Homo sapiens: one gene and its partners. The protein of the gene in region 3 interacts with the protein of the main gene of each other region in a biochemical or structural test. Each region holds a gene or a part of one and is shown on either strand. Other genes may lie near its edges. The genes, in order: MAP2K7, MAPK9 and DUSP19.

Region 1 (3,649 bases), on a different chromosome or scaffold from region 3:
AAACATGCGGCGTTTTGTGAATATCATGATAATAACAAGAGTCAACAGGCTAAGTGAGAGGAGAGGGATGCTACGCCTACGCTGCCCCCACCACGGCCAGCCGGCTTCTGCGCCTTTGGTGTTGGATTTTCTTTGTGATTTTACGGGGTTTTGTGTTTTTTTTTTCTTGTTTTTTGTTTTGTTATTTTTTCTTGTCCACTTGATTTGCATGCAACACCCACAAAAAGGAAACACACCCCCTCCTGCTCTGGCCACCCCAGCAGGCTCCGGGGGGCACCTGGCCTGGGTCCCCGGTGCACTCACCCGGTCCTTCCCAGTCCTGGACCTCAACGTGGACTGGGCCAGGTGTGGGTGAGTGGAGGGACGGCCAGGGGCACGATGGGAGTGACCACCTCGCACCCCCACCCTCAGCCCGGCCCCCACCCCTGCTGGAGCTTGTCACACGTCCTCAAACCCCCACATCCACTCCCTCTGCCCTCCATCCCTGACTCCCTCCGGACCCCTCCCTTGGCCCCGCTCCGTCACCGATTCCCTCCGGTCACCTGCTCTGCACCATGCCCCAAGACCACCTTCCCTGAAGGCCATCCTGTGCGGCCAGGGCCCCGCAGACCCCTCCACATCCCCTGAGGTCTTCAACTCACCCCAAGCTGTGGCCCCCGGAGACCCCAGAGCAGCAGCCCCAGCCCAGCTCCCCAGTGCCCGAGGGCGGTTGGGGCCCCACCACAAGCAGCTAATCGTGACTTTGGTAAAAGTTTCTGAAGGTACCGACAACCCCACGAGAACAAGCTCTCCTCCGCCCCCACCCCAAACACCCCACCAAGTACAATAAAATACAATAAACTCCAAAAAGGACCCCCTGAGATCAAAGAGAGAGAGAGAGAGAGAGAGAGAGCGCGAGCGCGCAGCCCCGTCCAGCCGCAGTGGCAATGCCCACACTGCCTGGCTGGGGGCCACTGACTCATTGCGCCATGGGAGACCTATGCAGACCCAGGGGACCCGTCAGGAGGTGGCTGGGCCCAGGCTCAGGCCAGAAGAGAGACAGAGGCAGGGAGGGTGACGGGAGAGCCAGACAAGGACAGAGAGGTAGAGCAGGGGACAGAGGGCGACGGAAGAGGAACGGGCGCGTGGGAGTGGCGAAGGACACAGCACGCTGGGAGCGTGCATGGTGGCTGCGGGACTCCAGGGCTCTCTCCTGGCCCCTGGGGGCCGCCCCGGCCCAGAGGCTGCGGCTGAATGAACAGCGACTCTGATCGCGGCCTGCTGTCTTCCGTTCACAGTGTCTGTCGGGGGACGCACACGGCCGGCTGACCCCGGGGTGGGAAGGGCGGGGGCTTGGTAGGCCCGGGGCGGGGGGGGTGGGTGGGCACCCCCCACTCTCTGTCCTCAGTCCTAGGTGGCCGTCCAGGTCCCAGGTCTCCCCTGGCAGGCAGCTGGGTGGCCAAGTGGGGAGGGGGGCCTGTGGCCATGCCCCTGGCCCCCTGTGGGGCTGGCCGCCGCCAAGCAGCTACCTGAAGAAGGGCAGGTGGGGCTGGCTCAGGACGCCGCTAGTCCGCGGTGACTCAGTCTTCGCCATGACATCCTTGAACCAGGACGCCACGTCCACCTCCAGCGTCTCGTAGCGCTTGATGAAGCTGTGTTCCTGTGGGCCCGAGGGGGTGGGGCTTAGGAGGAGACGGTCTTCCCTCCTGGCCTCGCGCCTCCGCAGGGACAGGACGGGGACTGGGAGGGCTCAGGTACTCACAAGTAGCTTATTATACTTTGGTCTCTTCCTGTGATCTTTAGTAAGGCTAGAGCAAGAGAAGGGAAGACAGATGTGAGAACGAGGGAGGAGGGGATGCCGGCCCCACCCCTGTGCTCAGGCCCTCCCCAAGGGGCCAGGGGTCCCCAAGATGTGTGTGGGGGAAGGAGCTGTGGATGTCCTCAGGACCCCGGCTGACAGCGGGGAGCAACTGTGAGTCCCGGAGCCTCCTGGCCTAGGGCCAGGTGGCAAGGGCCTGGCTTGGGGGGCCAGAGCTGGCTGAGGTCCCCCAGAAAGGTGGGTGGGGCTCCCCTGAGAGAATCGAACATGGCCCTCCTGAACTTGTAGCTGTGCTTGTTGCAGAAGCGTGCTCACAATCTCCAACAGCCACCCCGCCAAATGCCACAGGGCTGGCTGTCCCCTCAGGCTAGGTCCAAACCCAGCTCATGGCTCCCTGGGCACCAGCTCCAGCTCCTGTGGCAGCCGCCAGCCAGGAGCCCGCCCACAGTCGCATCCGCCCATCCCAGGGTGCGGCCTCCATTCCCCTCCTGCCATTGCCTCCCCAGCTGCCCAGAGCAGCGGGCTGTCCCTGACCTCCCAAGTGGAGGGAGGTTCTCACCAGTCTTTGACGAAGGACTGGAAGTCCCCCGAGAAGCCCATGTGTCCGGGCAGAAGCGGGGGCTCTTCCTGTAGGACTTTGGTGAGGACCTCAAAGTCCGTCTTGCAGTTCTTGTAGGGAAACTGTCCTGTTGCCAGCTCCACCTGGGAGGGAGACGGGCAGGGCTGGACAGGTTTATGTTCTCCTCCCTCCGAGTCCCCCAGAAGCCCTCACTCCTGGCTGGAGAACAGGGGAGGGCCCCAACTCACCAACGAGATGCCCAGGCTCCATACGTCGGCCCGGATGTCATAGTCCGGCTTGGTGGGGTCTGGGGGGTCAATGCGCTCGGGCTGCAGGGGGGGGAGGAGAAGACGTATCTCCAAGGCTGGGGCCGGCCTCCCAGCCCCCACCCCCTCCCCCGCTGGGGGGCCCCCACTCACTGCCATGTAGGCGGCACAGCCGGCGCTCCGCGTCTTGGCTTTGGAGTCCACCAGGCGGCCGCTGATGCCGAAGTCGCAGAGCTTGATCTGGCCCCGCTCGTCCAGCAGGATGTTGGAGGGCTTGACGTCGCGGTGGATGACACCGTGCTTCTCCTTCAGGTAGTACAGCGCCTTCACAATCTGCAGGCACGCAGAGGGGGGTGCATGTGGCAGGGGGCACAGACCCAAGGCCACCTGCCCGGTGCACGCCCCACCTGGCCACTCACCGCCACTGTCATCTTGCCCAGTGCACGCCCCGCCTGGTCACTCACCGCCTCTGTCATCCTGCCCAGTGCAAGCCCCGCCTGGTCACTCACCGCCACTGTCATCTTGCCCAGAATGCGCTCGGGGATGGGGCCCTGCATCCGCTTCTTGAGCTTCTCAGCGCAGGTGCCCATGAGCTCCATGGCGATGAAGACGTCCGTCTGCAGGGAGAGGGGCACCCGGGGGAGCTGTGTCTTCCGGCCCACCCCCCAGAGGCTCTGCTCCCTAGGAAGGGGCAGGGGTGAGGGAGGAGGAGACGCTGCAGGGCGCGGCCAGGTACTCACGTTGGTGATGAACGTCCCAAAGCACTGCACGATGTAGGGGCAGTCGTGGCTCTTCAGCACCACATCCAGGTCCATGAGGATGCGCTTGTTCTCCTCCTTGTTCCCGGAGCGCCGCATTTGCTGCACAGGCAGGGACAGGAGGGAGCCTCAGCACCGGCCTGGGGTGTGGGGCGCAGCCGGGGTAGCCGCCAAGGCTCACCTTAACGGCAATGACGTGGCCGGTCTTCCGGAAGCGCATCTTCCACACCTGGCCGCAGGTGCCGCTGCCCATCTCGCCCAAGTTCTC
Region 2 (3,649 bases), on a different chromosome or scaffold from region 3:
CTTCCAACTGGGCATCATAAATTTGAGGTGGTGGCTAAAAATTAAATCATATGTAAAGTCAACAGTAATGCCTCAAAAAAAAATGAGGCACTAAAAAAGGTAAAATTGCTTGGAAGACTTCTAGTCTATTTATGATATGGATTTAGTTTAATTCAACACGTGGTTTAATAAAGATTTGTCATGTGATATTATATCAACTTTAGAATCAAAATAATTATGAAAAAGTTAACCAAAGAAGAGTTATTATGTTCCTCTTAATAATCACCTGACCTCAAAACGCAGACATCTGCCCAGATGTCATTAGAAACTCATCATCACAGGCTGTTTCCCAGAGACCCATTATGGACAAGGCACTGTGCTGGCAGCTATGGAAGGTACTGTTGTTTCTTAGAACAAATTTTACATTTTCTTCATGGGAGAACTCCCAAATCCAATGTCCAACTCATAAATGGACTGTTATAAAAGTCTGCTTATAAATTGGATTCTTTTTATATAAAACAATGTTTAAACTGATGGCAAAACCACAGGCCATGACATAAACATGTATTTCACTCATGGCATGAAGGAAGCCTGCCACTACGCAGTGATTTCCCTCACAGCTAAAGCTCACTCACACCAGTGCTGACACAGAAACACGCACGTGAGCACCAAACTCAGAGTGGAGCTCCTCCAGCGGGGGAACCAGGAGCTACAATGCCTTTAGGGAAGGATAAACAGACGTGTGATTTTTCAGCAAGTTGCTCAGCCTCTCTGGTTAAGTGGCCTAAACAAGAGGATGTAACCAAAGCCAATGGCACAGAATAGATGCTTAATAAACTATGAGCTCACAGCAGCATTTGCAAAATGGAGACTGGTAGCACCAAAGCGGAAGTTCATTCCCGAGGTACTCTGAGCTGGGGCTCCAGCAGCAAAAGAGCAAGCGACCCAGGTCTCAGACAACACTTGGCCTTTCTGTAACTGGGAGCCCCCAAATGGAGAACTTGCTACCCATATGTAGCCACTCTGGACGGACAGACAAGATCCAAGGAAATATAAGCCTGGCCTCTCTATATAAATCTTTTCAAAACAGATACTCACGGCTTCTGCTTCGGCGGGGTCATACCAAACAGTGATGTATGGGTGACGCAGAGCTTCGTCTACAGAGATCCGCTTGTCAGGATCAATCACTAACATTTTTGATAACAGATCTCTGGCTTGACTTGCTAGGGTGACAACAAATATTAAATTAATGCTGTTAATATGAAACAAACAGAATCATACAATAAAGAACTAAATATGACAACACAGATAGAACAAAGATATATTAATTTTGAGAAATGTTTGATAGGTTCAAGATGAATATAACCCAAAATTTTTTTTTTTTTTTTCGGAGACGGAGTCTCGCTCTGTCGCCCAATGCAGTGGCGCAATCTTGGCTCACTGCAAGTTCCACCTCCCGGGTTCACGCCATTCTCCTACCTCAGCCTCCCAAGCAGCTGGGACTACAGGCGTCTGCCACCATGCCCGGATAATTTTTTGTATTTTTTTAGTAGAGACAGGGTTTCACTGTGTTAGGCAGGATGGTCTCGATCTCTTGACCTCGTGATCCGCCTGCCTCAGCCTCCCAAAGTGCTGGGATTACAGGCGTGAGCCGCCGCACCCAGCCATAACCCAAACATTTTTAAGAAAAAGTCAAATGTCCACTTTCATGACAAACCAGGTTTCCAAATGTAGTTTTACGCCTCTGGATCTGCAAGGGGAAGAGAAACCTGGGCTCCCAGGGTGGTGGGGAAGAGCACCAGGCAGCCTCAGACCAATGTCTGGGCAGGGCCCAAGGCTGGGAAACCACAGCAAGGAAGGTGGCAATTGCCGAGCTGCGGGTGGCACTGCCCAGAGTGTGGGCATGAGGCACGGGGGAGTATTTTTCTCTAAGTCACATCGAAATGAAATTAGAACAGACTTTTCAAACCACACAACAATCTCACATTCCCACAGGATAAAACACTCACAGATGCTTCTGGCTGGCCTAGCTGTATACAGTGCTGGCAACTTACACTTTTTTTTTTAATCTACAGATTGGTATTTAGGAAAAAGAAAAACAAGTTCAATAACTTAGTTAAATATAAGGCTCACCTAGGTTTTGTCAATTAAAGTTCACAACCTGAATAAGCAAAGACTGGGGCTTTTCTGATTAAGGCACAGTTTACCTTCATGCGGACAGAATCAAATCTTTTCTTTTTCCTTAAACAATCACACTGTAGTAAAGGGTGCAGGAGAAGGTGGGGAGGAAGGACCTTTTTCATCGAACAACTGTCACATCGCTTCTGACTCTAGAATCTGCATTAAGTGTTCTTCTTACCTGAAAACTTTTTGAATTCCAGTTGCTGTAACTGTAACATAAGATTCTTTCAGACTGATTTGATTATTTTTATTTTGGCCAAAGGCTTCAATTAAGCCGTCTTATAGAGGATAAAGCTTCTAGACCTTTAAGCTTTCTCTCCTCAGTGCCTTCGTACCTCAGACTTCAGGCCTAAAATGACTTTCTCTCCCAAAACACAGGTTTTTAGAATACAAACATGAAAGAGTGAAAGCACCACCTGAATTACAAAACACAAGTATAAGAAAAAAAGGATATCTTACTTTTTATTTTGTCTCGCTCAGATTCTGATGGGAATATCCAATCTGGAAAGAGTTCTTCAAATTTGATTCCAGGATACTTTGGTCTGTTTTCGACATAATTCCTCACAGTTGGCTGAAGTTTCTTCATGAACTCTGCTGATGGTGTTCCCAGCTGCTCAATAACTTTATTCCACTGATCAATATCTAAGGAGTTTCTTGAGGAAAATACAACTGAAGTACCTTGTATTCACAGTACATGCGGCAGCATCACTTGAATAATATTTAAACCTATCGACTAGGCCACCCCACTGGATCAGCAGCGGAATTTTGAAATAATATTCAAATAAGGTTTGGGTTTCCAAGTTACACTATTTTTTAAAACTCTCACACTCTGCATCTTCATAAACTATGATCACAGTTTATTAAATCAACACAATGAAGTCTACACACCTTCCCACTCTAGTTCAAAATAAAGTTTATCTTATAACTAAGAATACCTATAGCAAAAATGATTAAACACGAAATTAGATAAACATTACATAAGCAAATTGAAATCAGTTTTCATACTAATGCTACCTTAGATTCATTCACAGCTCTCTAAAGAACAGAGGATCTCAAGGGACCTGTGGAGAGACCTATCTGACCTCCTCAGTTTACAGCTGGGAACCAAGCAACTGGGCTTAGACTGAGCCCAGCGACAGCTTTCAAATGATGCTCTATTTTACTTGGAACTGACTCTTCCCAACCATCACTGCGATCCCTAGGTAATGCATTTTATTTCCTTTCAAAGTGCGTGACCTGGGTTTCAGACTCAACTCTGCATTAAACACTCAGTGTGTCAGGAAAGTCAGGCTTCCTTGGGGTCTGTTTCCTTATTTGTTCAATGCAGACATTACCAGCTTTGCCTATTCCACAGGGTGCTTGTTAGGCTTGGGATAATTAGGATTACATGTGGGAAAGTGACACTGAAACTGTACTCGCTATACAAGAGAATGCAAGTGAGAAAAAAATAGCATCAACAGCAGCTTAAAAAAGTGCTCACTGAGGCATG
Region 3 (3,649 bases):
CACACTGGAATGTTACAATCCAGAGCCTGTAAATTTTTTAACAAGAAAACAGAATGGCCAATATTAGGCTTTGAATTAAAAAACCTCTCCCTTGGCCAGGTGCAGTGGCTCATGCCTGTAATCCTAGCACTTTGGGAGGCTGAGGCAGGTGGTCTGCCTGAGCTCAGGAGTTCAAGACCAGCCTGGGCAACACGGTGAAACCCTGTCTCTACTAAAATACAAAAAATTACCCGGGTGTGGCAGTGTGCTCCTATAGTCCCAACTACCTGGGAGGCTGAGGCAGGAGAATCACTTGAACCCGAGAGGCGGAGGTTGCAGTGAGCCGGAGGTTACAGTGCACCGAGATCACACTACTGCACTCCAGCCTGGCGACAGAGTGAGACTGCATCTCAAAAAAAAAAAAAACAAAAAAAAAAAACACAAAAAACAAAAAACAAAAAAAACCTCTTCCTTTGCTTCCATCCAAATACAGTCGTGCATCATTTAACAATGGTGATGCATTCTGAGAAATGTGTTGTTAGGCAGTTTCTTCGTGGTGTAAACATCACAGAGTGCACTCACACAAACCTAGAATGGTATGGCCTATTGCTCCAAGACTACAAACCTGTTCAGATGTTACTGTACTGACTTGTAGGCAACAGTAACACAATGGTATGTATTTGTGTATCTAAACATACATAAACATAGAAAAGGTATGGTAAAAATACATTATTATAATCTTATGGAACCACCATCATATATGCAGTCCAAACATCATTATGCAGTGCATGACTGTATCTGCTATTAAGTAAAGTTGATGAACAGTAGAATTGAATAGTTTTATATTTTCTGGGTAGTCTAGTAGGAAGGCACGTAGAACAGTGCTGGGCACCTAAGGCATTCAATAAATATTACTAAATGAAAGGAAAGAAGGGAGAGAGGAAGAGAAAATGGGAAGGAGAAAAGATAAAGGGAGAGAAGGTAGGCCAGAGTTCAATTAAACCTGATTGTAATCCTGTCATTGTTAGGTGTTCCAGAAGAGTTATTTCTCTCTGTAAATGCTTCTACTTTCCCATCTACGTATCTTACATAAAGTCTGTAAGAATTATTTGCTGACTAAAAATGATGACATTTCAAGGAATAATTGTTGATAACAGCCAACCTAGAAACTTTGCCTGTCAGAATGTTGACTTCAATAACAAGCCTGAAGTACTATATGACATTGGCTATTGGTCTTCTAACTTCAGAAAACCAACAGACAGTTTCTGATCAGCATTTTCATACAATCTAAGTAAAGCAATACACATTTAGTCCTTAGAGTGCCTTAAAATTTTACTGCTAAAAATGCATAGTTTCACAATAACTATCTCATTCATTAAAATCAAATGCATATTAATCATCATAAATACACTAACAAGTCTAGAGCAGTCTCTGTTTTATAGTCTGAATTAATGTTGAAACTAAACATCTCATTGAAAAAAGAGCAATTAACCAAATAATTGTAGGAAATAATGAAATATTGTTAGAAGGGAAATTTCATAATTGTTTTTTAGAGATTCATTATAAAAATAATAAAGATTGGGTAATGGATCCACACTTTCAAATTTCTGCTTCTGCAGAACTATGGATCAAAACAAAACTCACTTTTCTTTTTGCTTCTTCAATAAATTCAAAACATTCTGGAAAATAAGACAGGATGTTGGTTTCAGGCAGATCCAATATAGAAATGCTCTTATATGTAAAGTCACTGAGGAAAGCATTTTCAACTCCATATGCAACATTAAGAATATGAGTCACCTTAAAGAGAAAGAAAAAAGATGATTGTTTTAAATCCCATGAATTAGGTTACCTAAAAAGAGACTGGGGTGTTGATATCTATAACAAGAAAGGTAAAAAATTTAAATGCGACTCACTTGAATGATAATACTGCTTCAATCCCACACCAGAAGTGCTCCTTCTACTATATGTTTTCTCTCTCTCTCTCTCTCTTTTAACTTATTATTATCATCATGCAGAGACAGGGTCTCTTTCTGTCACCCAGGCTGGAGTGCAATGATGCAATCATAGGCCACTGCAATCTTGAACTCCTAGGCTCAGGTGATCCTCCTGCCTCAGCCTCCCAAGTAGCTGGGACTACAGGCGTGTACCACCACACCCAGCTAATTTTTTTTTTTTTTTTTTTTTTCAGAGAAGAGGGGGGCGGGTCTCACTTTTTTTGCCCAGGCTGGTCTCGAACTCCTGGCCTCAAGTGATGCTCCCACTTCCGCCTCCCACAGTGCTGGCATTACAGGTATAAGCCACCACACCTGGCCTATATATTTTCATAGCCCTGGACTTGCCCTATTATAGCTCATGCCATTTAGAGATTGTTTTTCTCTTTCACTGCACTAGAAACTCCATGAGGGTAGGGACCATGTTTAACTTAGTGTTATAAGCGAATGAGCAGTGAGTTTAGCAGAAAATGCTTAAAATCTTTGTTGAATTAATCTGTGAATATCCATATAAAAACTTAAATAGGAGAAGTGTATCAGTGGTATACAACTTCCCTTTCAAGAATTATTTCCCTATTTTCCTTCATATTCTTTACTTTATAAAATGGTTCTCCAGGATGACTGCACATTAGAGTCACCTGATGAACTCTTAAAAACTATCAATAACACAGGGTCTCATACCCAGAGATTCTGATGAACCAATCTGGCTGAAAAGTAAGGGGAGGTGTGGTTGTAAAATATTTTCTTTCAGATGGTACACTTGAGCAACCTCCTCCTCTTGCATCTATGTATTTGAGCCCCTTTTCCTAGAGTCCACCAACCATGTGGAAGAAAGCCAGGCAGACAGTCCATTAAGATAATCCAAAGGCTGAGAATCACTTGAACCCAGGAGGTAAAGGTTGCAGTGAGCCACGATCATGCCACTGCACTCCAGCCTGAGCAAATGAGCGAGACTCTGCCTCAAAAAAAAAAAAAAAAAAAAAAAAAAAAAAAAAAAACCTAACAACCTTGTCCACATCTGTACTTCCCCTCTGCCTTCTGATTACAATGAAGGATGTGCTCGTGCATCTTCGATAAGGCTCATTCCAGAACCTGTGCTTGGAGTCACAGTGCTTCCTACTTTCTTGGCATCTCCCTATAGTCATAATTCTTGCTTTTCTGTATCTTCAATTCCTTCTTCTACCATCAGCCTTAAAACATGCTCAAAGCTCTCCCCTCCCCCTCCTCACCTATGGCTCCTCTCTCTCTTTTTTTTTTTCCCTTTGCCATCACTTCCTCACTTCTCAATCTTTTGCAATATGGCTTTGGCCTCCAATTCAAATGAAACTGTTTCCACCAAACGCACTAACAACCTCTCTGTCACCAAGTCCCATGGATATAATTTAGTCCTAATCGTACTTAAACTTTTACAGCATCTGACATTGCTGACTCTCTCCTCCTTAAAACACTATTCTCTTTAGTTTCCATGACACCATCTTTTTGTTTTACCTTCTTTGGGCCTCTTTTAGATCCTCCTTTCCCACTGCGGACTCTTCTTTGTTTGATCATTCCATATAGGGTGATATTCCTCAATTTATCAGTTCTGTGATAAGATTCTGTCATAGGCCCTCTTCTCTCTTACTTTACACTTTTCCCCAGGCAGCTTCATCTATTCTAATGGTTTCAGTAACTACTTAAAA

Evidence for each region.
Region 1: the proteins of DUSP19 (region 3) and MAP2K7 form a complex in vitro, tested with the Homo sapiens proteins (one study listed by BioGRID).
Region 2: of the proteins of DUSP19 (region 3) and MAPK9, one has a biochemical effect on the other in vitro, tested with the Homo sapiens proteins (one study listed by BioGRID).

The regions. Positions count from the first base shown.
Region 1 is NC_000019.10:7,910,287-7,913,935, reverse strand, and holds part of MAP2K7 (dual specificity mitogen-activated protein kinase kinase 7), read right to left. Parts: coding exon 3,563-3,649; intron 3,484-3,562; coding exon 3,364-3,483; intron 3,241-3,363; coding exon 3,133-3,240; intron 2,957-3,132; coding exon 2,777-2,956; intron 2,687-2,776; coding exon 2,606-2,686; intron 2,522-2,605; coding exon of another isoform or gene 2,501-2,521; coding exon 2,358-2,500; intron 1,788-2,357; coding exon 1,742-1,787; intron 1,640-1,741; coding exon 1,505-1,639; 3' UTR 1-1,504. UniProt on the Homo sapiens protein: Dual specificity protein kinase which acts as an essential component of the MAP kinase signal transduction pathway. Essential component of the stress-activated protein kinase/c-Jun N-terminal kinase (SAP/JNK) signaling pathway.
Region 2 is NC_000005.10:180,239,954-180,243,602, forward strand, and holds part of MAPK9 (mitogen-activated protein kinase 9), read right to left. Parts: intron 2,803-3,649; coding exon 2,620-2,802; intron 1,203-2,619; coding exon 1,078-1,202; intron 35-1,077; coding exon 1-34. UniProt on the Homo sapiens protein: Serine/threonine-protein kinase involved in various processes such as cell proliferation, differentiation, migration, transformation and programmed cell death.
Region 3 is NC_000002.12:183,085,167-183,088,815, reverse strand, and holds part of DUSP19 (dual specificity protein phosphatase 19), read right to left. Parts: intron 1,777-3,649; coding exon 1,624-1,776; intron 1-1,623.